7 linked regions of the Homo sapiens genome follow. The protein of the gene in region 7 purifies or fractionates together with the protein of the main gene of each other region. This does not show direct contact. Each region holds a gene or a part of one and is shown on either strand. Other genes may lie near its edges. The genes, in order: PGAP4, TMEM87A, SURF4, REEP5, GTF2IRD1, XPO5 and ADORA2B.

Region 1 (3,500 bases), on a different chromosome or scaffold from region 7:
ATACAAAACAGCACTCAACATTTCTTATCCATCTTTGGTAGCATGTGTTGGCATTTCTGCAGAGTAGATTCCTAGAAGTAGGATCGTTATGTCAAAGGGGATGCACTTATAAAATTTTTATAGATACTGCCCCAACACCCCAACATTTCCTCCAAAGATTGCACCAATTTATATTAAAGTGCCTAGTTGTTGAACTGTGACACTCCCTCGAAGTAAATTAAATTCAGATGTTAAATATAGAGATTAATTATGGAGAAAGGGAGCTCTATTACCAAGTCTTTCCACCTAAGCATTATTTTTCTGTTTATTAATGACTTTTTAATTACCCTTTGGTAGAATTTTGTAGTATGTGTGTATATTCTGCATATTTCTGAAATTTATTTCTAGATATTTGAGTTGCTTATTTTTTTCCCTTTTGACTGGGATCTTTTACTCCCTTAGTTCATTGGTGATCATGTACATGAAAGCAGTCATTATAATATAGATAATATAGATACAGATATGGATATGTAATGCATATATATAGTACATGTGTATATATACTTGCTATGTATATTATATATTATTTTTACATATTAATTCTGGTACCAACCATGTTTTGAGTCTATTGCCATTTCTAATGGTTTTTCAGTTGATTTTCCTGGGCTCCAAATTTATGTAGGCAGTAGTGCATATTGGTTGAGAATGTGGGTTCTGGACACAGTCTGCCTGGGTTCAAGTTTTGCCACCCTGCTTAAAAACTTAGTTTTCTAAAGTATAAAATGGGCTTAATAGTCATACTTCTTGGAGGCTTTTTATGAGGATCGATAGATGAGATGCTTAGAACAGTGCCTGGCACATAAGTGTTCTGGAAACATTTACAAATAAGTCGATCTCTACACAGTATATGACCAGCTCTTTGATACTACCAATTTTATAGCTGAGGACCTGAGACCCATAGAGGTCAAAAGAAGCCAATTATTTGCTTAACAAGCATTGAGCATCTTCTATGCATAGTTCTGTGCTGGGTCTGTGAGGGATACCAAAGATAAATCAGACTGAATCTACTAAAAAAGGATTCAAGAGTCCAATCAGATCGTAAGTCAAGGACCATAAACAAGGCCATGGAAGACAACAGGCATCATAGAAAAACATGAGCTTTGAAATTTATCCTTGTCCTTGAATTTCCTCTTGCAACTTGGTAGCATCAGTTTTGTCAACTAAATGGGATTAATTCCATTGCTATTTTGAGAGTTGCTATTTTGTTCAGAAGAAATAGATGCAAGGGTCTAGCACAACATTGGGATATGTAGTATGGCCTTAATAAGCGGTAGCTATAAATAGATGAGTCTGAAGTAGAAAGTGACAAATGAATGCCCTGGAGGAAAAGTTCATAGAAAGGGCCCCAGTACTTGAGGGGAAAAAAAGAGATTCTTTCTGGTTGGAAAGGTCAGGGTTGGGTTTTGGAAGAGGTACCTTTTGAGCTAATTCTTGATGGTTGAGTTAGACAGTGTGAGGAGCAAAAATGCAGCTGGGAAGATAGTTGGAACTGGATTGTGAAGAATCTTGGCAAATAATTTGGACTTTATTCTACAGTCATGGGGGAATCATTGAATAGTTTTACAGAAAAGAGTGCCATGTTCTGACTTATGCTTCAGAGTATCAGATGGATGCTGATCAAGTAAAACATCACCATCATTTGCACAGTGTCCTATGCCTGACAAAGGGCTATCATAGCTGTTGTCTCTTCATCGTCACAGTCTCACTGTGTTGCCAGGCTGGAGTGCAGTGGCATAATCTGGCTCACTGCAACCTCCGACTACCTGGTTCAAGCGATTCTCCTGCCTCAGCCTCCTGAGTAGCTGGGATTACAGGCACGTGCCACCACACCCAGCTAATTATTGTATTTTTAGTAGAGATGGCGTTTCACCATGTTTGCCAGGATGGTCTCGATCTCCTGACCTCGTGATCCGCCTGCCTCGGCGTCCCAAAGTGGTGGGATTACCGGTGTGAGCCACCGCGCCTGGTTGAAGTATCTTTTATTTTCCTGTTTCACAGAGAAATAAAATAGGCTCAGAGAGATAAATGATTTTTTTATACAAATTGATCAAATTAGTGAGTGTTGGGACGAGAATTGGACCTAGATCTTTTGGCTTGTGTTGCTCATTCTGGAGGTCAGAAGCTCTGTTAGGAGCCTGTTGCAATCAGCTGGCTTGGAGGTGCTGAGGAGGAACTAGAGTGTGGCAGGGAGGAAAGCTTGACAAGGGGAAGGCGAGGGGAAAAGAGAGGCATAATAAAAGAGGCCGTAGAGGTGGGATTAGGAAGTGACTGCGTGGAGGTGAGAAGTTAGAACTAACTAGTGTTTTAGACTGAGTTGCCTGGGAAAGTGGTCGTGCCATTCATATAGTGGATTTGGGAAACACAGAACATTCTTGAGCACTCATCCCCTGACTCACACCCTGGTATTGTGTCTTCCACACCCGTGGATCCTTTAGTTTAATTTTCAGAAGTTGCACTAAAATATAACTATTGTTGTAGCTCCATTTATTCATCTAAGCCCTAGTTCATGTTCATTTCTCAGAGTCTGTGTCCTTTACTGTCTTCCCTGAGCCCTACACTCTAGATATGGTAACAGGTAGAGAATTCTGTTTAGGGAAGGGTTGTGTTTCAAAGAGCACATGCAAAGCATAGATAAGAACTGGATATGTATTGTTCTGTAGAATCGGAGCTGTAATGGTGTAACTGTTATTAGGTCAGCTCATAGGTGCCAGTCAGTCCACAGTGTCTCTGGAGTGTGGGCCTCAGCCTGTGACATCATGGGCAACTGGAATTCTGGAAAAAGACAATCAGAGTGGTAACATAGACATAGCCCTCTTGTCTCACCCTTATGATTGGGCTGGGAGTAAAAAAACTCCTTCCCCAAACTAGCAGTGAAAAATCCTATGTTTTTATATCTGTTCCCCTAAGGCCATTTATCTTTTATCTTTTTTTGTTTGTGTGTTTGTTTGTTTTTGTTTGAGACAGGGTTTTTCTCTGTCAACCAGGCTGGAGTGCGGTGGTGCGATCACAGCTCACTGCGGCCTCGACCTGCTGGGGCTCAGGCAATCCTCCTGCCTCAGCCTACTGAGTAGCTAGGACTACAGGAACATGCTACCATGCCTGGCTAATTTTTGTATCTTTTGTTGAGACTAGGTTTTGCCATGTTGCCCAGGCTGGTCTCAATCTCCTGGGCTCAAGCCATCCACCTGCCTCAGCCTCCTAAAGTGCTGGGATTACAGGCTTCAGGCACCACATCCAGCTGGCCATTCTTCTTAAAACCAGATCAGTAAGGTGAAATAAATTATAGGTGCCATTGGACACCACAGGCTACTGTGCAACAATTGGTTAAATCTTTTAAAAAAATGTTTTAAAAAGTAAACAAGAACATACTCCTGAATGACTACATAACTCCATGTGGTTGGATTTTCAGCAAAGCAGTCATCTAATCTTGAATGAAGGATCTGATCCCAGCTCCTGTGTCC
Region 2 (3,500 bases), on a different chromosome or scaffold from region 7:
GTTTGGGATGATAAAAGTACTAGAGATGGGGCTCAGCCCGGTGGCTCACACCTGTAATCCCAGCATTTTGGGAGGCCAAGGTGGGTGGATCACTTCAGGTCAAGAGTTCAAGACCAGCCTGGCTAACATGGTGAAATCCTGTCTCTACAGAAAATACAAAAAAAATTAGCCAGGCGTAATGGTGTGAATCTGTAGCCCTAGCCACTTGGGAGGCTGAGGTGAAAGAATTGCTTAGATCCGGGTGATGGAGACTGCAGTGAGCCGAGATTGTGCCACTGCACTCCAGCCTGGCGGACAGAGCAAGAATCTGCCTTGGGGAAAAAAAAAGTACTGGAGATGGGTCGATGGCTGCACAGCAATGTGAATATATTTAATGCCACTGTATTATACACTTAGAAATGGTTAAAATGGTAAATTTTATGTAGTGTATATTTTACCACAATAAAAAAATGGGGGTTTGCTTTTTACACACAAAGCAAAGTACAACCTCTCTTTGATGAGTATGTATAAGTGGCTGACTATGTACCTATCAGAACATGCTTCCACTTACTTCTGCCAAAAGAAATACTTGAGAAGTCGGAAGTGGATACAGCCAAAAATATATACATTCCAATTTTTGCCTATTCTATTTATCTCCAATCACTTTCAAAGATTACCTGTGTTTTAAAGAGTTCACTGCAGTTCTGGAACAATTTTGATGATGTTTGATATTTCCCAGACAAGCCTCTTTTTTCCTTAAGTTTTTCCAAATACAACTCTACTTCTTCTGCCTGGAAAAAGAGATAATACAGAGTAGTTAACTCACCTTCCAAAAAATAAGATACTAAGAGCACAGCACAACAAACAGTTCACCTGCAGTACAGATACAATTTTGAGTTTGCTATTTTAAAAATGAACAGCATCAGATAAAGGCTCTATATAAAAATATCTAAGAATCAAACACTATCAGACTCAAGGACTATTAGACTCTAGTCTTTGGCTCACAAGGCATAGTTCTACTAACAATTCTGAGTAGACTGGGAAACTGCCAGAGTGTAGAGGGTTTTGTCACATTAAAATATACTTAAAAGATTTACTTGACCAAATTAACAACATCAACAAAAAAATATTCATGCTCATAAGCTAAGATAGAGCAGAAAATTGTTGCAAGCACAGAACTAGGATAATCTTCTTAAAAATGCAAATTGAGAGATAGAAACAGAATGGAAAAGGTCTGAAAAATTCAACTCAGAACTATATATATGTGTGTGTATATATATATATATATTTTTTTTTTAACTTTTATTTTAGGTTCCGGTATACATACGCAACTTTGTTATATAGGTAAACTGAACTCACAGGGAACTGTTTTACAGATTATTTCATCACCCAGGTACTGCCTAGTACTCAAGAGTTATTTTTTCTGATCCTCTCCCTCCTCCCACCCTCCACCCTCAAGTAGGCCCAGTGTCTGCCGTTCCCCTCTTTGTGATCATGTGTTCTCATCATTCAGCTCCCACTTATAAGTGAAAACGTGGTATTTCGCTTTCTGTTCCTGTGTTAGTTTGCTAAGGTTAATGGCCTCCAGCTCCTTCTGTGTTCTTGCAAAGGAAATGATCTCATTCTTTTTTATGGTTGCATATGTATCACATTCTTTTTTATGGCCGCATATGTACCACATTTATCCAGTTTACCATTGATGGGCATTTAGGTTGATTCCATGTCTTTGCTATTGTAAACAGTGCTGCAGTGAACATATATGTGCATATGTCTTTACGGTAGAATGATTTATATTACTTTGGATATATACCCAGTAATGGGATTGCTGGGTCAAATGGTAATTCTGTTTTTAGCTCTTTGAGGAATTGCCACAGTGCTTTCCACAGTGGTTGAACTAATTTACACTCCCACTAACAATGTATAAGCATTCCCTTTTCTCCACAACCTTGCCAGCATCTATTATCCTTTGACTTTCTCATAATAGCCATTCTGATGTGAGATGGTATCTCATTGTGGTTTTGATTTGCATTTCTCTAATAATCAACGATACTGAGCTTTTTTTTTTTCATATGCTTGTTGGCTGTATATCTTCTTTTGAAAAGTGTCTGTTCATGTCCTTTACCCACTTTTCTATGGGGTTGTTTTTTGCATATAAATTTGTTTAAGTTCCTTATAGAGGCTGGATATTAGACCTTTGTTGGATGCATAGTTTGCAAATATTTTCTCCCATTCTGTAGGCTGTCTACTCTATTGATAGTTTCTTTTGCTGTGCAGAAGCTCTTAAACTTAATTAGATCCCATTTGTCAATTTTTGCTTTTGTTGCAATTGCTTTTGGCGCAATTGCTTTTGGCATCTTCATCATGAAATCTTTGCCACTTCCCATGTCCAGAATGGTATTGCCTAGGTTGTCTTCCAGGGTTTTTATAGTTTTGGGTTTTACATTTAAGTCTTTAATCTATCTTGAGTTGATTTTTGAATATGGTGTGAGGAAGGGGTCCAGTTTCAATCTGCATATGGCCAGCACGCTACCGCAACACTATCTACTAAATAGGGAGTCCTTTCCCCATTGCTTGTTTTTTGTCAGCTTTGTTAAATATCAGATGGTTGTAGGTGTGCGGCCTTATTTCTGGGCTGTCTTCTCTGTTTCATTGGTCTTTGTGTCTGTTTTGGTTACTGTAGCCCTGTAGTACAGTTTGAAGTCAGGTAATGTGATGCTTCCAGCTTTATTCTTTGAGCAATATATTTTCAACGCTCAAGTATTCTAGATTATGGCAATTCTCAAAAGTGTGGCCGTTGAACCATAGACAAAACTATTTTCATGGCTGGGCACAATGGCTCACGCCTGTAATCCCAGCACTTTGGGAGACTGAGGCAGGTGGATCACCTGAGGTCAGGAGTTTGAGACCAGCCTGGCCAACATGGCAAAACCCCATCTTTACTAAAAATACAAAAATTAGCCGGGTGTGGTGGCAGACACCTGTAATCCCAGCTACTTGGGAGGCTGAGGCTGGACAATCACTTGAACCCAGGAGGCAGAGGTTGTGGTGAGCTGAGATCGCGCCACTGCACTCCAGCCTGGGTGACAGAGTGAGACTCCATCTCAAAAAAAAAAAAACTATTTTCATAATAATAATAGTATGCTATTTGACTTGTAACGATATTACAAAAGCAATAGTGGGTAAAACTGTTGCCCCTTATCAGGAACTAAGGCAGTGGCATTTAATTCTACTAGCAGTCATATTCTTCATAGTCACAAACTGGCAGTTTTTAAAAATGCCACTTTTATGTAAGAATATCCTAGATAAAGCAGTAAAAATTATTAATGTTATTAAATCTGGACCTTTTGAGTACCTGACTTTTTAAATAATCTAGGTGACAAAATGGAAAGCATGCAAAATACAATAAATTATTGTCTTGAGATAAAGCACTCTGCAATTGCTTTGACTTGTGAGTTAAACTAATCATTTTTTCCACGAAACACCATATTTACTTGAAAGAATGACTGAAAAACTACCATTAC
Region 3 (3,500 bases), on a different chromosome or scaffold from region 7:
ACCCAAGTGGGTTAGGACCATATCTGTAAGGCACCATATCTGTAAGGCAGCGCAGGCTGCCGCCGTCAGATGATCTCCTTAAGAGTCCGTCTAGGTGGTGGCAGAGCATGGCTGTGGGAGCTTCCATGCCCTTTTGTGGGCAGCTTGGGAGGGCAGCTACTTGTACTCGCCCAAACCCCAATCAGACAGATGCAGGCAAGTAAACAGGGTTCGAAGTCAAAATATGGCTTCTTGTGGACAGAATCTGACCAAGCCCAGGTGGGGCTTTGTTTCTCTTTATTCACATAGTACTTAAAGCTGCCAGACCAGGCTTTTACATGAAAATGACCTAATTTGAAGCCGATAGAGGATTACCATGGAAGTCACTGATCAGATAAAGTGACACATCCATTTTTTCACATCTTCAGAAAACAAGAGCAAAACTGAAGTGACAAGATTTGACCAGAAAGTGTGGGCTGCTGAAAGCAAGACCTAAGTAAGCTTAGTTTCCCAGGCCCAGTGTCTTCCAGTATTATGACAATGACATTAAGTCTTTCACTGGGCCGGGTCCATGATAGACATTCCTTTTGTGAACTTCTTGACTGTAGGAGGTTGGCCAGAGCGTCACCATCTTCAGATGGGCAGAGGGAGGTTGGCTGGCCGCACTGGCTTGTGGTGGCCTGGAGACTGAGTCCGCATCCTGTTACCCCAAAGGCTGGGTTCCTCACTGCTTGGTTGACTGATCTTTCCTTCTGGCCTGCAGAGGCTGGTCCACGGGGACGAGCAGTCTGGTTAGTTTCTGCTGGCAGGCTCCCCACAGTTGCATCTCTTGTCTCTCTGCCTCTGGCATCAAGCTGCTTGCTCTGGCAGCCAGGGACAGTGTCCTCTTGCTCCCAGGAGCCATGCTCTGTAGAAACTGCTGAGACGTGCTCTATGCAGGAGCTTGGCATTTGGAAGCCATGGGAAGGGTCCAGAAACTAATGAACTCAGCAATCCAAACTAATGTCCATGCCTGCAGCTGCTCCTCATTGCCTATTAGACACTCTGTAAAATGTAGCTTCTAAGCAGTTTATACCCATAAACAGCAATATTAGCACTTAATGGGTTCTGCCTGGTGGCTCATCACCAAGGTGACAGAAAAGCTGCATGGGGCCTTCCTCTCCAGTGTGACCTTTGGTGTTTTTAACCTGTCCTCAAGAGTGGCAGAGCTAGTCCTGGGCCCTAGGAGCTGGCCTCGGCCCTAGTTGAAGTGCTGGGGAAGCAAGGATAGGCCTGAGGACCCCTGAACTTGCAGGTGGCACAGGCACTGTGAGGGTCCCGATGAACACCATGCTGGTGACTGGTGTGGCAAAGTCCTGGTGACAGTGGCAGGCTCTGTCATACCCTGCCCTATATCATGAAGGAGTGGGGAGAGAAGGCAAAGAGGAGCTGACTCACTTTTCTTTGTGTGATGATCTTAACGGGAGGTTAAAACTCACTCTTCAGGGGAGTGCGGGCGAGGAGCAGAGGAGGTTGTGGTTAGCGGGGCTCCTCCCAGAACATGGGGCCCAGTCGTTCTCAGTTACGTCTTTCCTATAGTTGGGATTTTGATCACACAGTTTTTTAGTAAAGCCAGGCCATCATCTCCCACATTGGGCTGGCGACATCCTTTCTGGCCCTGCAGGGTGCAGTGTGAACCTATAGAGCAGCATGGGAGCGGGGCTCGGGGAAGTTCTGGAGCTGCAGTGAGCCAGTGAGCTCGAGCCAGCTCTGACAGGCTGATGTGAGGGAAGCCGCTGGGCCGCAGGTGCTTGTTTCTAGGATGTGTGGGACCTGAGTTGGGCTTTGAACAAGGCAGCCCCAGTCCTTGGTGATCAAGGAAATCTGACCTGCCTTTTTCGTCGATGTTCACATTCACCACGAATTTGCAAGCTGCTTTCCTCAATTTCTTTCTGTCCTGAGTGTGAAGAGAAAGTGGAGTTTTCTGTGTGGCGTGGGAGCTGCAGGTGGCTGTGACAGTGATCACTGGATGCCCAGGAAGTCATCTCAGGGTGGATATAATTAATTACGTTTCTAAAATCCCCTTCAGTCGTCTAAAATAACCACCCCTTTGAGAGAAATATCAGTCTTCCTGTTAAGCCCCTCAGATGCTGTCACTGCTTATGAACCATATCCTGCTTGATGGCGCGGTTCTCGGAGAGACTTAATGAGAAGCTTGGCCACAGAGGTGAGCTAACTGTCATCTTCTTCCTGCAGCCTGCCAGGTCAACAGCCACCTCTGGCTCTGCTGTCGCAGTTCTCTAATGGGGGGGAGGGGGACTGTCACAAGTTTTATGTGCTCGCCGTGTTTACACAGGTCACCTGTGTGCTGGCTACCAGCAATGGCCTTAGTGCCTGCAGTGCGGCTGCTCTTGTCTGTCCTGGGGTGCTGTGTGTCCTGCCTGTGTTGAGGGCTCTTCTCTGCTGTGCTGAGGGGACACTGGCTCTGGGACGTGTTCTAGAGTGGCATGACATGGTTCCAGTGGCCAAGTTGAAGTAGTTGTGACCAACATGCATGTAGGAAATAAGGTTAATGTTGGGCCTTGTCTTTAAACGTGGCTTTTTCAGTGTTCAGTCCAAACAGATGCTCATTAAATGGTGGCCAGTTTAGAGGAGACTGCATCAGCCTGACTTCAGCCTTCAGTGTGGACCAGGCTTGCCTTTGAAAACCAGGACAGCCAAGCAGTAGGTGTGCTCAGTTCAGAAGGCAGTACCTAGATTTTTGCATATTTTTCCCCAAAGCCAAGAGCTGTGTCTGTTTCGTCACCATGTTTGCGCAGGGAAGGAGGTGTGAATTGCCTGTCCCACCTTCTCTCTCTTTTTTGCTCTTTAATCCTCTTGACCCAGACACTCAAATTAAGAGTCGCAGACTCATTCAAAGAGACTTTTAAACACTGCCTCAATCTCGTGGGCTGTGCACGTAGATGAGCATGTTAAATGCAGGTCCTGCAACTGGGGGAGGCTTAGACCGCAGCCCATGGCTGGGCTGGTTTGCTCATCTCAGGCCAGTGAGTGGCTCACAGCTCTCATTTTAGAAGCAAGTCAGAACACCTCTGGTGTCTGTCTTGGGTATGGATTGCAGTCTACCTCTCTGCTGCTGTTGGGGTCCACGCCCCACACCCACACCCTGCCCTGGGAGTCCCACCACGGCTCCGTCTCATCTCAGAGGTCTGGACAGCCTCCTGTTGAGCTCTTCCTTCCCAGTGGTTGCTTTTCCCCAGGTTCAGATGAGATAAAGGCTTGTGTCCTTGCTGGGGCTTCCCAGCTGGGCCACGATGTGAGGCCATTCCTTGAGAGCAGTGGCACATCGTGTGCCACGGTGGTGTGCTTTCTCTCTTCCATGGAATATGGGTGATTACACTGTTGCTGGGCATTTAGAGAGCAACGGGGCCATGAGGCAGAACCTGGGGAGGGTGTGTGGCGTCACCTTTCCCACCACCCAGTGTGATGCAGGTTGCGTCACACTGTGCACATGGGCATCTTGTGCTGGTTCTCTGCATTGG
Region 4 (3,500 bases), on a different chromosome or scaffold from region 7:
GCGCTTTGCCTTCTGGGGTAGTATGAAGCACAAGCCAATGTGGCCTTCTGGCCGATGTGCACTTGGATAAAAAATATAACAGGCATTCTGCAAACTGTGACTTAAGCAATTTACTTAAACATTTAAATCTTTAATTTACTTAATTTAAATCTGAAATCTTAAGCATTTAAACATTTAACCTTCCTCAACTTTTTTACTGTCCTTGTTTCACTTAACATTACTGCTAAGAGTGCTGGACTCTTTTAAGATGAAAGTGTTGTGGAGAAATGAAAAAGTAATAAAAATATCCTTATAACAACTTGTGACTATTTTGTAAAATAATGACAGCCAGCGTTTCAGTTAAGGTTCGCCCGCTTGCCTGTGTCATAAAGAAAATAAAGTTTTAAAAAGCAAATAAGATGAATGATTTAAATTATTTATTCATGATCAGAGTTTCTGGGCTCTAAAGCAGTTGTGGAGGAGGATCTCATTTCTAATACTCTATTCTGGAATGTTCCTTATGAGCTTTTTTTTTTCTCTTTATGAAGGCCCTGGAGATTTAGTCTATTTGTCCTTCTTTCTGTCGTAGCCTCCCTCATCTCCTTCTGACCTGGACTTCTCTTTTTCAGGACTGACTTTGAATGAGGACTCAGTTTTCAACTTAATTTTTTCACATGGCATTTAAAACAAGTATAAATACAAATATAACATGTTAAGGTATTTAGTGGTGATTCATAACATTAACAATTAATTTTGGGGAAGTATGAATTAATATGGCAGAAGTTTTAAAACAATTTCAAAATTGTGAATGAAATTACTTTTTGTAGCAGCTGAAATATAAGTGGGGGCTGTAGAAACGTACCCTGACTTCATTCTGTCACTTGCACACTTTCCTGATTCCAGGGAGTGGAGCTTATCAGTCACTCTGAGTCATGTGTCTACTATATATATCCTGCAGCCTCTGATAGACCAAGTGATCTAGTTAAGGGATCGCTCACTTGTCTAGACTGCGGTCCGCATCTAAGGTGGCCCTCCTTTACCTAGGAAAAGGCAGCTTAGGTTGTTCCCCTTCTAAGTTGTGAGGTTACTTGAGATTAAGTTAAACTTTATGATACCAATCTGACACAGATACTTATAGAACCACTGGTTTTATTGACAAAGGGTTGTCCCAGTGGGATTTGCATCTGCTCTTTTATTGCTCCTGGCATTAATCTTTTTTACCATCAATCATTCAAACAGTTTTTTTGGGGGGACAGGCAGGGAGGCTGAGATGGGTGGATTGCTTGAGTTTGAGACCAGCCTGGACAACATGGCAAAACCCCATCTCTACAAAAAATACAAAAAATTAGTACACGCCTGTAGTCCCAGCTACTCCAGAAGCTGAAGTGGGAGAATCACCTGAGCTTGAGAAAGTCAAGGCTGTGGTGAGCTGTGTTGATGCCACTGCACTCAGCCTGAGTGACAGAGTGAGACCCTGTCTCAAAAAAACACACACACACTTGGGAGGCTGAGGAAGGAGAATTGCTTGAACCCAGGAGGCACAGGTTGCAATGAGCCGAGATTGCGCCACTGCACTCCAGCCTGGTTTTTTTGAGTGTGTTTTTTTTGAGACAGGGTCTCACTCTGTCACCCAGGCTGAGTGCAATGGCATGAACACAGCTCACTGCAGCCTTGACTTTCTCAAGCTCAGGTGATTCTCCCACTTCAGCTTCTGGAGTAGCTGGGACTACAGGTGTGTACTAATTTTTTGTATTTTTTGTAGAGATGGGGTTTTGCCATGTTGCCCAGGCTGGTCTCAAACTCCTGGGTGCACACACACACACACACAAACACACACACATTCAGTTTTGAGTTATAAAATGTTAGCTAAAAGGGGTCTTAGAGACTAAGCTGCTAGGGTGATAGCCACCTGTAACAGATGTGGAAATCAAGGCCACAAACTGAAGTTAATTGACATAGGTCACAGGTGTGTTGGGACCAATTCAGTCTTAAGTGTAGGGATGTCTGTCCACATTCCGCATTGTTATATTTGACTGTGACTGACTCTTCCATTTTGCATTTAAAAACAAAATGGTGGATAGTGGTAAATGAGATCACTGTAATTAAACACCAAAAGATTTGACCACTGAATGACTGCATTTTTTTCTTTATACTTCATTATAGGTATTCTATAGACTCATCTTAATTTTTTTTTTTTTTTTTTTTTTTTTTTAGCCAGGGTCATACTCTGTCACCCAGGCTGCAGTGCAGTGGTGCAATCATGACTCACTGCAGCCTTGACCTCCCAGGCTCTAGCTATTCTCACTCCACTGCCTCTGTAATCTTTTTTCTTTTCTTTTCTTTTTTTCTTTCTTTCTCTTTCTTTCTCTTTCTTTCTTCTTTCTTTCCTTTCTTTCTTTCTTTTCTTTCTTTTCCTTTCTGTCTGTCTGTCTTTCTTTCTTTCTGTCTTTCTTTCTTGATGGAGTTTCCCTCTTGTTGCCCAGGCTGGAGTGCAGTGGCGCAATCAGCTCACTGCAGCCTCCACCTCCCGGGTTCAAGCGATTCTCCTGCCTCAGCCTCCCAAGTAGCTGGGATTACAGGCATCTGCCACCAATTTTTTGTGTTTTTAATAGAGATGGGGTTTCACCATGTTGGCCAGGCTGGTCTTGAACTCATGACCTTAGGTGATCCATCTGCCTTGGCCTCCCAAAGTGTTGGGATTACAGACATGAGCCACTGTGCCCGGTCAGTCTTTCATTAGTCTTTCTCGTACTGTTTGTTGGTTTTCTCTCTTGCTTTAAAAGCACATATACTCTGCAGTGAAAAAGATATGTAACTTTCTGATCACGCATAGTTTCCTGCCTTCTTTTTTTCTATGAAGGAGAAAAATATTTTCCTTATTGGCATGGAAACGAACTAGTGTTTATGTCTTAAAATGTCTGATTCTTTTTTCCTTCTTATTTGAGGTACTGATAATAGGAAAACCATTTTGAATTACTAAGAATTCCTACATCATACTCTCTGATAAATACAGCCAAAAGCAATCCCATGCATGGTGGGCATGGAGGATGGTCAAGTTATGTGTCTGCCATAACAAAAAGGATTATAAACATTATGGTCCATGTTCTTCATATTCAATTTCCAAAGAACCTATCTTAACCTCTGGAATATTTGCTATTAAACATAAGTTACCACATTAGAAATAAAATATAAAGCAGATGGACCAGAAGATGATTCCTTTCTGTTCTTTACCAATAGGACATCTTAAAGCTTTTTATCCATATATATGGATAAAATTAAAATATATATGGGTATAAATGGATATATAGATATATTTTAATGAACTGCTTTTTTTTCCACACTGTCAGTCTCTGGTAAATAGTTGATATTGGTACAACTGGTTTGAATAATAAAGCCAATGCTGTGAAGACATACTATTACTTAATTTTATGTCATTTGGCTAGTTTGAATTGTAGCAACTGAGTTACTTATGAACCATGCACAGAACACATAGTATGTACCTATGTGTCTTAGGTGTGAGT
Region 5 (3,500 bases), on a different chromosome or scaffold from region 7:
GCTGTGGTATCTTTGGGCTGAAGACTTCCTCGTCCTCAGGGCTGGCCATGGTTCCACCTTTATATCCCCATGATGTCCTCTCTTTTTTTTCTTTTTTTCTTTTTTTGAGACAGTCTTGCTCTGTGCCCAGGCTGGGGTGCAGTAGTGTGATCACAGCTCACTGCAGCCTCGAACTCCTGGACTCAAGCCACCCTCCCACCCCAGCCTCACAAGTAGCTGGGACCGCAGACAAGGGCCACTACACCTGGTTAATTTTTTATTGTTTGTAGAGATGGGGTCTTGCTATGTTGCCCAGGCTGGTTTCGAACTCCTGGGCATGAGGAGTCCTCCCACCTTGGCCTCTCAAAGTGCTGGGATGACAGGAGTGAACCACCGCGCCTAGCCAACATCCTTTCCTTCCTTTGTCCCAACATTGATCTTACTCAGATGTTTACATCTCTCTCCCCAATTGCACTAGGGACAGGAAGGGATGGAGGCTTGCTCCTCAAATACTTGTTAAATGGCTACATGTTTGAATGAATGAATGAATGAAATCCTGCTCTTGAGCCTTGACCTAAATGGCTAAGCAGACTCTCTCCTATTTTTCTTAAATGCTCATCTCTGGGGCAAGTTCCCCACCCTGGTAGGAGTCCCAGGGTCTCTCCCTGAACTTCCTGGGGCCCCCTCTCTCCCCACTACCCCAGCCTGTGTCTTCTCCCAACCTTAACCCTGGGGGCTTTGCTCCCCAATGTCATCCTCTCTGTATCTCTCAGTTCTCTGACTCTCGCCGTTTGTAAGTATCTCTCTCTCAGATGCGTGGCAGCCAGGGTCACAGCCAGGTTCTTTGGGACAAGCCAGGGGTGTATGCCCAGCTCCATGGGGCCTGCAGAGGCTTCAGGGGACACCCATGGAAGAAGACCTGCAGGGCCAATTTATAAACAGAGGAGCAGAGCAGGACCCAGGGCTTGGAATCCATGCTGAGTTACGTTTTTGTTTTTTTTTTTTTTTTTTTGAGAGGGAGTCTCACTTTGTCGCCCAGGCTGGCATGCAGTGGCGCCATCTCGGCTCACTGCAACCTCTGCCTCCTGGGTTCAAGCGATTCTCCTGCCTCAAGTAGCCGGGATTACAGGCATGCTCTACCACGCCCGGCTAATTTTTGTATTTTTAGTAGAGATGGGGTTTCATCATGTTGGCCAGTCTGGTCTAGAACTCCTGACCTCAAGTGATCTGCCCGCCTCTGCCTCCCAAAGTGCTGGGATTGCAGGCATGAGACACTGCGCCCGGTCCTGAGTTCAGTTTTGATTGGGGGGCTTCCGGGATAATATGGGGCCGCTAGGACAGGGACCCTTAGTGTGACTGGAAGGGAATTTCCTGAAGGAATTCATAGCAGAGGTGGAGTGGTGGGAAGGATGGTTTCTGGGGGAGAAGGAGATGCGTGAACCTGGCCAGAAGACAGTGTGTTGTGACAGATGATTGCTGGTGAGGGGGTAACAGTCTCCAAGGTGTAGATGTTGGGGGCTCCAGATACGGCAGGAGGGGCCTGGCCTCTCGGAATCCCCTCAGCCCCATCTCATAGAAACATGTGCTTTCTACCCAGGCTCCATACTCCGGAAGGGAGGCAGGACCCTGTCACTTTCTTGGCCTACTTTGGAAGTTCTCAGTCAGGTATCTCCAGGTGTGGCAGAGGGGCTTTGGCCTGTAGGGGGTGTGGTAATGTGGGTTTTGGAGGCAGAAAGCTTTTCAGGAAAGCCCCCTGGTCCATCACCCCCCTTTCTTTTTTTTTTTTTTGAGATGGAGTCTTGCTTTGTTGCCCACGCTGGAGTGCAGTGGCACGATCCCAACTCACTGCAACTTCCACCTCCCGGGTTCAAGTGATTCTCGTGCCTCAGCCTCCCGAGTAGCTGGGATTACAGATGTACACCACCACACCTGGCTAATTTTTGTATTTTTAGTAGAGACGGGGTTTCACCATGTTCGCCAGGCTGGTCTTGAATGAACCCCTGACCTCAAGTGATTGGCCCTCCTTGGCCTCCCAAAGTGCTGGGATTACAGGTGTGAGCCCCCAGGCCCGGCCTCATCATCACTTCTTCACCCACCCTATTTTGGTAGCTCTCTCTCCACTCGTCCTGTGGAACTGATCCATTCTCGGTCCCATTCCCTTCTCTCTGGGCCAATCTGCACCTAGGTTTGTGGCTTCATGAGTATGGAGGGTCGTGCAGAAAGGGGCCAGGTCTGTAGGAACCTGGGTTCATGCCCTGGAAATTTGCCCATTTAAGATAAGTTAGGGCCGGGTGCGGTGGCTCATGCCTGTAATCCCCAGCACTTTGCACTTCGGGAGACCGAGGCGGGCGGATCACCTGAGGTCAGGAGTTTGACTAGCCTGGCCAACACGGTGAAACCCCATCTCTACTAAAAATACAAAAATTAGCCAGGCGTAGTGGCGGGCGCCTGTAATCCCAACTGCTCGGGAGGCTGAGGCAAGAGAATTGCTTGAACCTAAGAGGTGAAGGTTGCCGTGAGCTGAGATCGTACCATTGCACTCCAGCCTGGGCGACAAGAGTGAAACTCTGTCTCAAAAAAAAAAAGATAAGATAGGTGTCCTGAATAAGATAGGTGAAATGGGTGAGGATGTACTTTATCTTACACGGTCTTAGGGAGTGTCTCAGGCGGTGAACAGAACTCTCTCGCCCCTGAGCTGGGGCCTGGCTGACCCAGAGCTATTTGTGTGCCCACCTGTCACCCTCTTTCAGGACCACCTGCTTCAGGTTGCCAGATTTAGCAAATAAAAATAAGGATGCCCAGCTAAAATTGGATTTCAGACAAGCAAGGACTAATGCAATATTTGGGATGAACTTCTAGCTAAAAGTTACCTGTTGTTGATCTGTAGTTCAGACTGAACTGGAGGTCTTGCATTTTATCTGCCAACCCTACAACTGCTGCCTCTGGGGCGGTGAGATGGATGGGGTTTGGGGAGGGGCCAGAGGTGTGTGTGGCTGACCCTGGAGTTGGGATCAGGGCTCAGTGGAGGCCCCGGGGATGATCTGGAGCGAGTTTGAATCGAGTGGAGCTGATTCACTGAATCTTGGCTTTTTTTTTTTTAATTTGTATTGAAATGAGGTCTCACTCTGTCACCCAGGCTGGAGTGCAGTGGCACAATCTCGGCTCACTGCAGCTTCTCCCTCCCCGGCTCAAGCGATCCTTCTGGCTCAGTCTCCCAAGTAGGTGGGACCACAGGCACACGCCACCGTGCCCGGCTAATTTTTTGTATTTTTGGTGGAGATGGGGTTTCGCCATGTTGCCCAGTTCCTGAGTTCAAGTGATCTCAAAGTGCTGGAATTACAGAAGTGAGCCACTGTACCCAGCCAGCAGGGTCCTTTTTCATTTTTATTTTATTCTATTTTTTGAGACAGTGTCTCACTCTGTTTCCCAGGCTGGAGTGCAGTGGCGTGATCCTACCTCACTGCAACCTCCAACTCCTGGGCTCAATGTGATCCTCCCACCTCAGCCTCTGCACCTAGCTA
Region 6 (3,500 bases), on a different chromosome or scaffold from region 7:
TGAAGAAATACAAAATTTAAGAGGTTTTAGGGAATAATACACTGCTGAGAAGATGGTAAGAAGGGCACGCACAGCTGAGTACGGTGGTTCACACTTGTAATCCCAACACTTTGGGAGGCCAAGATGGGAGGAATGCTTGAACCCAGGAGTTTGAGACCAGCCTGGACAATATAGTGAGACCTCATCTCTACTAAAAATTTAAAAAATTAGCCAGGCATGGTGGTGCGTGCCAGTAGTCCCACCTACTTGGGAGGCTGAGGCCGTAGGATCACTTGAAACCAGGAGTTTGAGACCAGCCTGGTCGACATAACAACACTTCTACAACATCTCTACAAAAATTTTAGAAAGTATCCAGGCATGGTGGTGCCCGCCTGTAGTCCTAGCTACTCAGGAGGCTAAGGCAGGAGGATCCCTTGAGCTCAAGAGTTTGAGGTTACAGTGAGTGATGATTGTGCCACTGTGCACTCCAGCCTAGGTGACAGAATGAGACCCTGTCTCTTTAAAAGATGAAAATAAAATGTAGCCAAAATGGTTATTTCTAAGTGGAGGCAGCCATTGTCAACCTGTTTTATGTCTTTGTTACAGGAAATTCCTGTTAATGATGGAATAGAGCTATTGCAGATGGTTCTGAACTTTGATACCAAGGATCCCCTCATCCTGTCCTGCGTCCTTACTAATGTCTCTGCACTCTTTCCATTTGTCACCTACAGACCAGAGTTCCTGCCCCAGGTCTTCTCTAAGGTATAAAGCCCATCTCCTTTGTAAATTTTATTTTGACATTTCTAAGTTAATTTTTATTTATTTTATTTTTTTGGAGACAGGATCTTGCTACATTGCCCAGGCTGGACTCAAATTACTAGTCTCAAGGGATCCTCACACCTCACCCTTCTGAGTAGCTGAGACTACAAGCATGCACAACCATGCCTGGCCTAGGCTAATTATTTTTGTAACTATTTTTAAAATTATGTGAGGCAAACTAATAAACACAGCTATTTATTCATTTATTAAATATCTACTCAGTACTTACTGTGGATCAGGTACCATGCTAGTGCCTCACTCTTTAGGAACACTCTGGGAAGAAAGGCACAAAAACAGTTAATGTTACCTATATGGCATTGCAATGAAGACTTGTATAAAGGAGAGTATTAGAGTGTGCTGTCGGGCAGGGAGGGGATTTATGAGAGGAAGGAACACTTTCCAGGTTTCCAGTTCAGTTGACTAGGTGGGTGATAGAGCCACTCCCTGAGTCAGAATACCAGATCACAAAGGAGAACGGGACTAAAGAAGAGAAAGCATGAGTATTTTGGAATACTGTGTTTGAAGAATATGTAGAACATCTTTATGGAGACATCTCACAATAAATTGGCTATTTGAGGTTGAAGATCTAGACTCTAGAAAGTAATGAGATAAAATTAAAGCATCATCATCATAGTAGTCCCACGACTAAAAGTGAAGTCTTACTGAAGTGATTATGTATGTAGAGTTAGGAGACATGTGAGTCAAGCGAGGAACCTAGTGAATCACCATCATTGGAGGAGTGGAGAAAAAAATGAGAAGCCCCCACAGAAGGAAAAAGAGCCAGAGAAATGAAGAAAATGTTGTGTCACAAGACCAGTAGGACTTCAGAAAAGTGGGCTCATTTGTTGCAAATTATTTGAGTTGGAGAATGCCCAGTGAGTTTCTTGACTACACTCTTGTCTGAGTTTAATTCCATAATAGTGGCCAAGTAAGCAGCCATATTTCATTGGAATGAGGAGTAAATGGGAAATAATGAAATGGAATAGAAGGGATAGACCATACAACTTTTGATAAAAGAAGAGAGAGGCGTTTCCATAGCCAAGTGCTTGGGTGATGGCATGAATTGTTCTGGGATCCTATTGTAAAATGTTTTGATGGTAAAATTGTGACTCCGATGACTCTTGTAGAGGTTATCTGAGAAAATGGACAGTATGAATAAGCTCATGCCCGTAGTCCCAGCTACTCAGAAGGCTAAAGCAGGAGAATCAGTTGAGCCCAGGAATTCAAGTCTAGTCTGGGCAACATAGCAAGATCTCATCTCTAAAACAAATAAACATGAGTGACCTTTTTTCCTCCTCTCCCTTAGCTATTTTCATCTGTCACTTTTGAAACTGTTGAAGAAAGTAAGGTAAGACCATTAATTAAACCAATAGATTCTAACTTCTTGAGTACAAATGTATGAATACCTGATACTCAGTTTATATTTTTATATAAATGGGAGGGGGTAGTAAGGGTGGTAGATTATCATATATGTTGTTTTGCCACTATAGGGCATACAAGAAACATGGATTCTTGGTGGCTATAAATGTTACTCCATTATACTCTTAGGGTTGTGAAAAATCATTGTGAATTTGCCCCTGACTGAGATATTCACATGAGTCTATGCAGCACCTGTATATTATATTAAAAGCAGCTCCGAGTTTGTTGAATGTCTCTTTTCAGGCCCCCAGAACCCGGGCAGTGAGGAATGTGAGGAGGCATGCTTGTTCCTCCATCATCAAGATGTGTCGTGACTACCCCCAGCTTGTGCTGGTAAGCTGCTGGACCCTGGCTGAAGTAGCCAAGTTTGGTTACATTTGTGTGTAAATCCAGCTTTCAGTGTACCTCACATAAAGAAAAAACTAGAAACTATAGCTTTGCATCATATAAGCATCCTTGGCCGGGCATGGTGGCTCACACCTGTAATCCCAACACTTTGGGAGACTGAGGTGGGTAGATCACCTGAGGCCAGGGGTTCGGGACCAGCCTGGACAACATGGTGAAGTCCGGTCTCTACTAAAAGTACAAAAAAATTAGCTGGGCATGGTGGTGCATGCCTGTAATCCCAGCTAGTCAGGAGGCTGAGGCAGGAGAATCACTTGAACTCAGGAGGCGGAGGTTGCAGTGAGCCAAGATCACGCCATTGCTCCAGCCTGGGCAACGAGCGAAACTCCATCTCAAAAATAAATAAATAAACATTCTTGAATTGGTGTTTTCTTAGTATACTTAGTAGTATAGTTAGAAATGTGATGGCAAATGTAATCTCTCTTCAAAATACAAATAGTTCTCTGCCATATAGATTACTAAGTTTACCCCTATAATTCTACAACTCTTTACTATGTGATGATCTTAATTACTACTGCCAAATGATGTGCCTGATCTTGAGAAAAGCAGATGCAAATCACAACCCTTTTTGGGGCATGGGGTTATAAGAAATTTAACATTACTCCAGATTACAAATTATCCAGAAATTTCTTCTCTGAATGCACAGCAGTTATCTCCATATATATATAGATATACATATATATCTATATATATATATAAAACAAGCTGATCTTTTCACAGTTGTAGTATGGGAAAGTGCAGTTATCCAAATACTCAAGACAAGAGCTATCTTCCGCCTAAATTGCCTTGCTTATTTAGGCAAAATAAAGACATATAACAGAATTACCAAATAATAACCTTATAGGCCTGACTTTCCTGGGACTGCTTTGGTTTTCTTC
Region 7 (3,500 bases):
TATATATATATATATATATATATATATATATTTTTTTTTTTTTTTTTTTTTTTTTTTTTTTTCTGAGACAGAGTCTCACTCTGTCACCCAGGCTGGAGTACAGTGATGCCATCTGGGCTCACTGCAGCCTCCGCCTCCCAAGTTCACATGATTCTCCTGCCTCAGTCTCCTGAGTAGCTGGCACATGCCACATACCCAGCTAATTTTTGTATTTTTTAGTAGGGACGGGGTTTCACTATATTGGACAGGCTGGTTTTGAACTCCTGACCTCGTGATCCGCCTGCCTTGGCCTCCCAAAGTGCTGGAATTACAGGTGTGAGCCACCATGCCCGGCCGAATAATTATACTTTTAATTTTTGAGGTCACCTTCCTGGCAACAAGTATACATTTTTAGTACAGTCAACTTTTATTTTTCCATTGCCTCTAAGTTAAAAAGTATTTGCATTATAATAGTTCACACTGTTTCACAGTAAAATAGTTTCAGTAATTTTCCACCATAAACAAGGCAGACTTTTAAAAACAAAAGAGTCTGTTAGAATCCATTCAAGCTGTTGGCATAATCCACACAGTAAAAGCAGCTGAATAGATCATAAATATATTTGTCAATCCTTGGAGCCTACTACTGACACATACATATTAGCTAGATACGTGGTAGCTCCAGGGAAGTGCTCAAGAGAGGCAGTCCATTTCCTTGTGAGGTGTAGCTATCTTTCACAATGAAAACCAGCCGTGTCCTCTTTGTTTCTTGTGGATTTGTATCTTCTCCTGGAAGAGGCGAGAGCCTAGATCATAGGCCCACACCGAGAGCAGGCTGTACCCCAGCCTGACCATTCCCACTCTTGACATCTGCTTGGCAGAGAAGATACCTGGAGATAATTTTGTGAAAAGTGTAGCGGAAGTCTCGGTTCCGGTAAGCATAGACAATGGGATTGACAACTGAATTGGCATGTGACAGAAGAATGGCCATATTCATTGCCCACTTGGGCTTATTTTTACCCTGAGCTGGCTGGAAAAGAGTGACACAGTTAACAGCATGCACAGGTAACCAGCACAGGGCAAAAATCCCCACAATCATGGCCAGTGACTTGGCTGCATGGATCTCCCGCTGGAGGGTGGTCCTCGAGTGGTCCATCAGCTCAGTGCGCTGAAGCTGCCTGCAGGCCACCAGGAAGATCTTAATGTAGATCACCAGCATTATAAGCAGTGGGGGCAGAACACACCCAAAGAAATTGAAATATACCATGTAGCTCATGGGGACCACATTCTCAAAGAGACACTTCACAAGGCAGCAGCTTTCATTCGTGGTTCCATCCCAGGGTTCTGTGCAGTTGTTGGTGGCACTGTCTTTACTGTTCCACCCCAGGAATGGAGTCAATCCGATGCCAAAGGCAAGGACCCAGAGGACAGCAATGACCCCTCTTGCTCGGGTCCCCGTGACCAAACTTTTATACCTGTTTAAAAGAATACCATCTGTTACGGTCAGTTTATAGCGCTCTGCAACCACAATCCAAGACCCCACCTCCTCTTTTTTCCATGACCCTTTAACAACCTCTAAAGTTCACCTTCCAGGGCACTAAGGCCTTTACCCTCAATACTAAAGACATGCAAGCAGGGATGAGCAGCTTTGCTCTAGAAAACTCAGTAAGATCTTCATTCTTGACTTAGCAACTCCTTTCTGTTTAGTGACACAGGATGGCCAATGACAAGAGGTGGGGAAGCCTTAAGGGAGTACTGTAAGTCCTCAATGTCCTCGGTGGGTTCTCAAACTGTGACTTGAAGTATATGTCATAGGAAGTTAACTCTTGTTTATATTGTTAAATCAAGTTTAGCCTAAAGCTGCCTCCTTACATATTTTAAATTTGGCCTAAAGGTTTCTCTGTACATCGTGGACTACAACAAGTGGACGTGTAAACAGACTATAGCCTGCACTCATGCCAATCCTCGACTTTTGGCCAATCAAATGTGGCCAACTGTTCGAACCCTGTTCAAAAAGGGCAAATGCTGAGCTATAACCAATCCAGCTGTTTCTGTTCCTCACTTCCATTTTCTGTACGTCACTTTTCCTTTTTCTGTCCATCACTTTCTTTTTTCTGTCCATAAATTATCTTCCACCACGTGACTGCACTGGAGTCTCTGAGCCTGCTTTGGCTCAGCAGGCTGCACAATTTGTGAATCATTCTTTGCTCAATTAAGCTCTTTTAAATTGAATTCAGCCGAAGTTTTTCTTTTAACAGTATCAACTGTGGTAAAATTGGCTTTGTTATACAGTGCATCATTTTGCTTCAAGTCACAGTTTCCAAAAACCGATCGACTTCCTATACTTCCTACCTACCTAGGTACCGCTCTTTGAGTCTAGGTCTTCTGTAAGGCATTGTTCTAGGTCAGTGGTCCCCAACCTTTCTGGCACCAGGGACCAGCTTCATGGAAGACAATGTTTCCACAGACCAGGGGCGGGGGGTGATGCATTAGATTCTCATAAGGAGCGCACAGCGTAGATCCCCTGCGTGCACAGTTCACAATAGGGTTAGCTCCTATGAGAATCGAATGCTGCTGATCTGACAGGATGCAGAGCTCAGGCAGTAATGCTCGCCTGCCTGCTCACCTTCTGCTGTGTGGCCCAGTTCCTAACAGGCCACGGACCAGTACTAGTCTGCAGCCCAGGGGTTGAGGAACCCTGTTCTAAGTGCTTGAGATACATCAGTGAACAGAACACACAGAGATCCCTACTAAATTTTAACAGACTCAGATCTAGCAGGGGTAAACATAATAATAAACAGTATGGAGATATATGTGGTATGAAACATGAAAAAGCAGAGTAAGAAAGATCAGGATGGGCAGGACTGTAGTTTTAAAGAGGCTGACATCATGGATAAGGTGACACTTGAACAAAGGCCTGAGGCAGTAAGCACTGGAGTCAGCACCACCTGTGGCTCCAGGCAAGGATCTTTCTGGCTTCCCACAAACACCACAAGACATTTGCCTAGGACTATGGGCAGAATCATTTCTGAATACCTCTGCAGACTGCTGGAGAACAAGAGTCTAGCAGTGCCCCTGTCTACTGAGAAATACTAGCAGCAGAGTTGATAAAAATTGGGAAATAGCAAATATTAAATTTTTTGGTCATCTTCAAGCCATTAGATCACAAGTTGGAGACCAGCCTGGGCAACATGGTGAAACTCCATCTCTACAAAAAAGTACAAAACTTAGCCGGGCACGGTGGTGTATATCTGTGGTTCCAGCTATTTCGGGAGAATGAAGTGGGAGAGTCAGGATCACTTGAGCCCAGGAGGTTGAGGCTGCAGTGAGCTGTGATTGCACCACTGCACTCCAGCCTGGGTGACAGAGCAAGACCTTATCTCAAAAAAACAAACAACAAAAAAATACTAGAAACCACTACTGGGGATACCAATACAAAGGGACAAGATCCTAGTCCTTAAGAGGTTTGACCAGTATCCAGTTGAGAGATACAACATGTATCAGATAAGCAGGCTCTATGACAA

What was found.
Region 1: the proteins of ADORA2B (region 7) and PGAP4 purify together in Homo sapiens (affinity purification with mass spectrometry; one large-scale study listed by BioGRID and IntAct). This does not show direct contact.
Region 2: the proteins of ADORA2B (region 7) and TMEM87A purify together in Homo sapiens (affinity purification with mass spectrometry; one large-scale study listed by BioGRID and IntAct). This does not show direct contact.
Region 3: the proteins of ADORA2B (region 7) and SURF4 purify together in Homo sapiens (affinity purification with mass spectrometry; one large-scale study listed by BioGRID and IntAct). This does not show direct contact.
Region 4: the proteins of ADORA2B (region 7) and REEP5 purify together in Homo sapiens (affinity purification with mass spectrometry; one large-scale study listed by BioGRID and IntAct). This does not show direct contact.
Region 5: the proteins of ADORA2B (region 7) and GTF2IRD1 purify together in Homo sapiens (affinity purification with mass spectrometry; one large-scale study listed by BioGRID and IntAct). This does not show direct contact.
Region 6: the proteins of ADORA2B (region 7) and XPO5 purify together in Homo sapiens (affinity purification with mass spectrometry; one large-scale study listed by BioGRID and IntAct). This does not show direct contact.

What each region holds. Positions count from the first base shown.
Region 1 is NC_000009.12:101,480,674-101,484,173, reverse strand, and holds part of PGAP4 (GPI-N-acetylgalactosamine transferase PGAP4), read left to right. Parts: intron 1-2,667; exon of another isoform or gene 2,668-2,811; intron 2,812-3,448; exon of another isoform or gene 3,449-3,500. UniProt on the Homo sapiens protein: Golgi-resident glycosylphosphatidylinositol (GPI)-N-acetylgalactosamine transferase that catalyzes the N-acetyl-beta-D-galactosamine transfer from an UDP-N-acetyl-alpha-D-galactosamine to the 4-OH-position of the first mannose of the glycosylphosphatidylinositol (GPI) of a GPI-anchored protein (GPI-AP).
Region 2 is NC_000015.10:42,263,434-42,266,933, forward strand, and holds part of TMEM87A (transmembrane protein 87A isoform 1 precursor), read right to left. Parts: intron 771-3,500; coding exon 657-770; intron 1-656. UniProt on the Homo sapiens protein: Potential monoatomic ion channel gated by mechanical force, implicated in normal touch sensitivity through the generation of mechanically activated currents.
Region 3 is NC_000009.12:133,369,561-133,373,060, reverse strand, and holds part of SURF4 (surfeit locus protein 4), read left to right. Parts: exon of another isoform or gene 1-2,139; coding exon of another isoform or gene 2,140-2,185; intron 2,186-3,500. UniProt on the Homo sapiens protein: Endoplasmic reticulum cargo receptor that mediates the export of lipoproteins by recruiting cargos into COPII vesicles to facilitate their secretion.
Region 4 is NC_000005.10:112,912,228-112,915,727, reverse strand, and holds part of REEP5 (receptor expression-enhancing protein 5), read left to right. Parts: intron 1-3,500. UniProt on the Homo sapiens protein: Plays an essential role in heart function and development by regulating the organization and function of the sarcoplasmic reticulum in cardiomyocytes.
Region 5 is NC_000007.14:74,456,906-74,460,405, forward strand, and holds part of GTF2IRD1 (general transcription factor II-I repeat domain-containing protein 1), read left to right. Parts: intron 1-3,500. UniProt on the Homo sapiens protein: May be a transcription regulator involved in cell-cycle progression and skeletal muscle differentiation. May repress GTF2I transcriptional functions, by preventing its nuclear residency, or by inhibiting its transcriptional activation.
Region 6 is NC_000006.12:43,548,539-43,552,038, reverse strand, and holds part of XPO5 (exportin-5), read left to right. Parts: intron 1-585; coding exon 586-741; intron 742-1,027; exon of another isoform or gene 1,028-1,069; coding exon of another isoform or gene 1,070-1,071; intron 1,072-2,104; coding exon 2,105-2,146; intron 2,147-2,460; coding exon 2,461-2,550; intron 2,551-3,500. UniProt on the Homo sapiens protein: Mediates the nuclear export of proteins bearing a double-stranded RNA binding domain (dsRBD) and double-stranded RNAs (cargos). XPO5 in the nucleus binds cooperatively to the RNA and to the GTPase Ran in its active GTP-bound form.
Region 7 is NC_000017.11:15,972,630-15,976,129, reverse strand, and holds the end of ADORA2B (adenosine receptor A2b), read right to left. Parts: intron 1,452-3,500; coding exon 788-1,451; 3' UTR 384-787; downstream 1-383. UniProt on the Homo sapiens protein: Receptor for adenosine. The activity of this receptor is mediated by G proteins which activate adenylyl cyclase.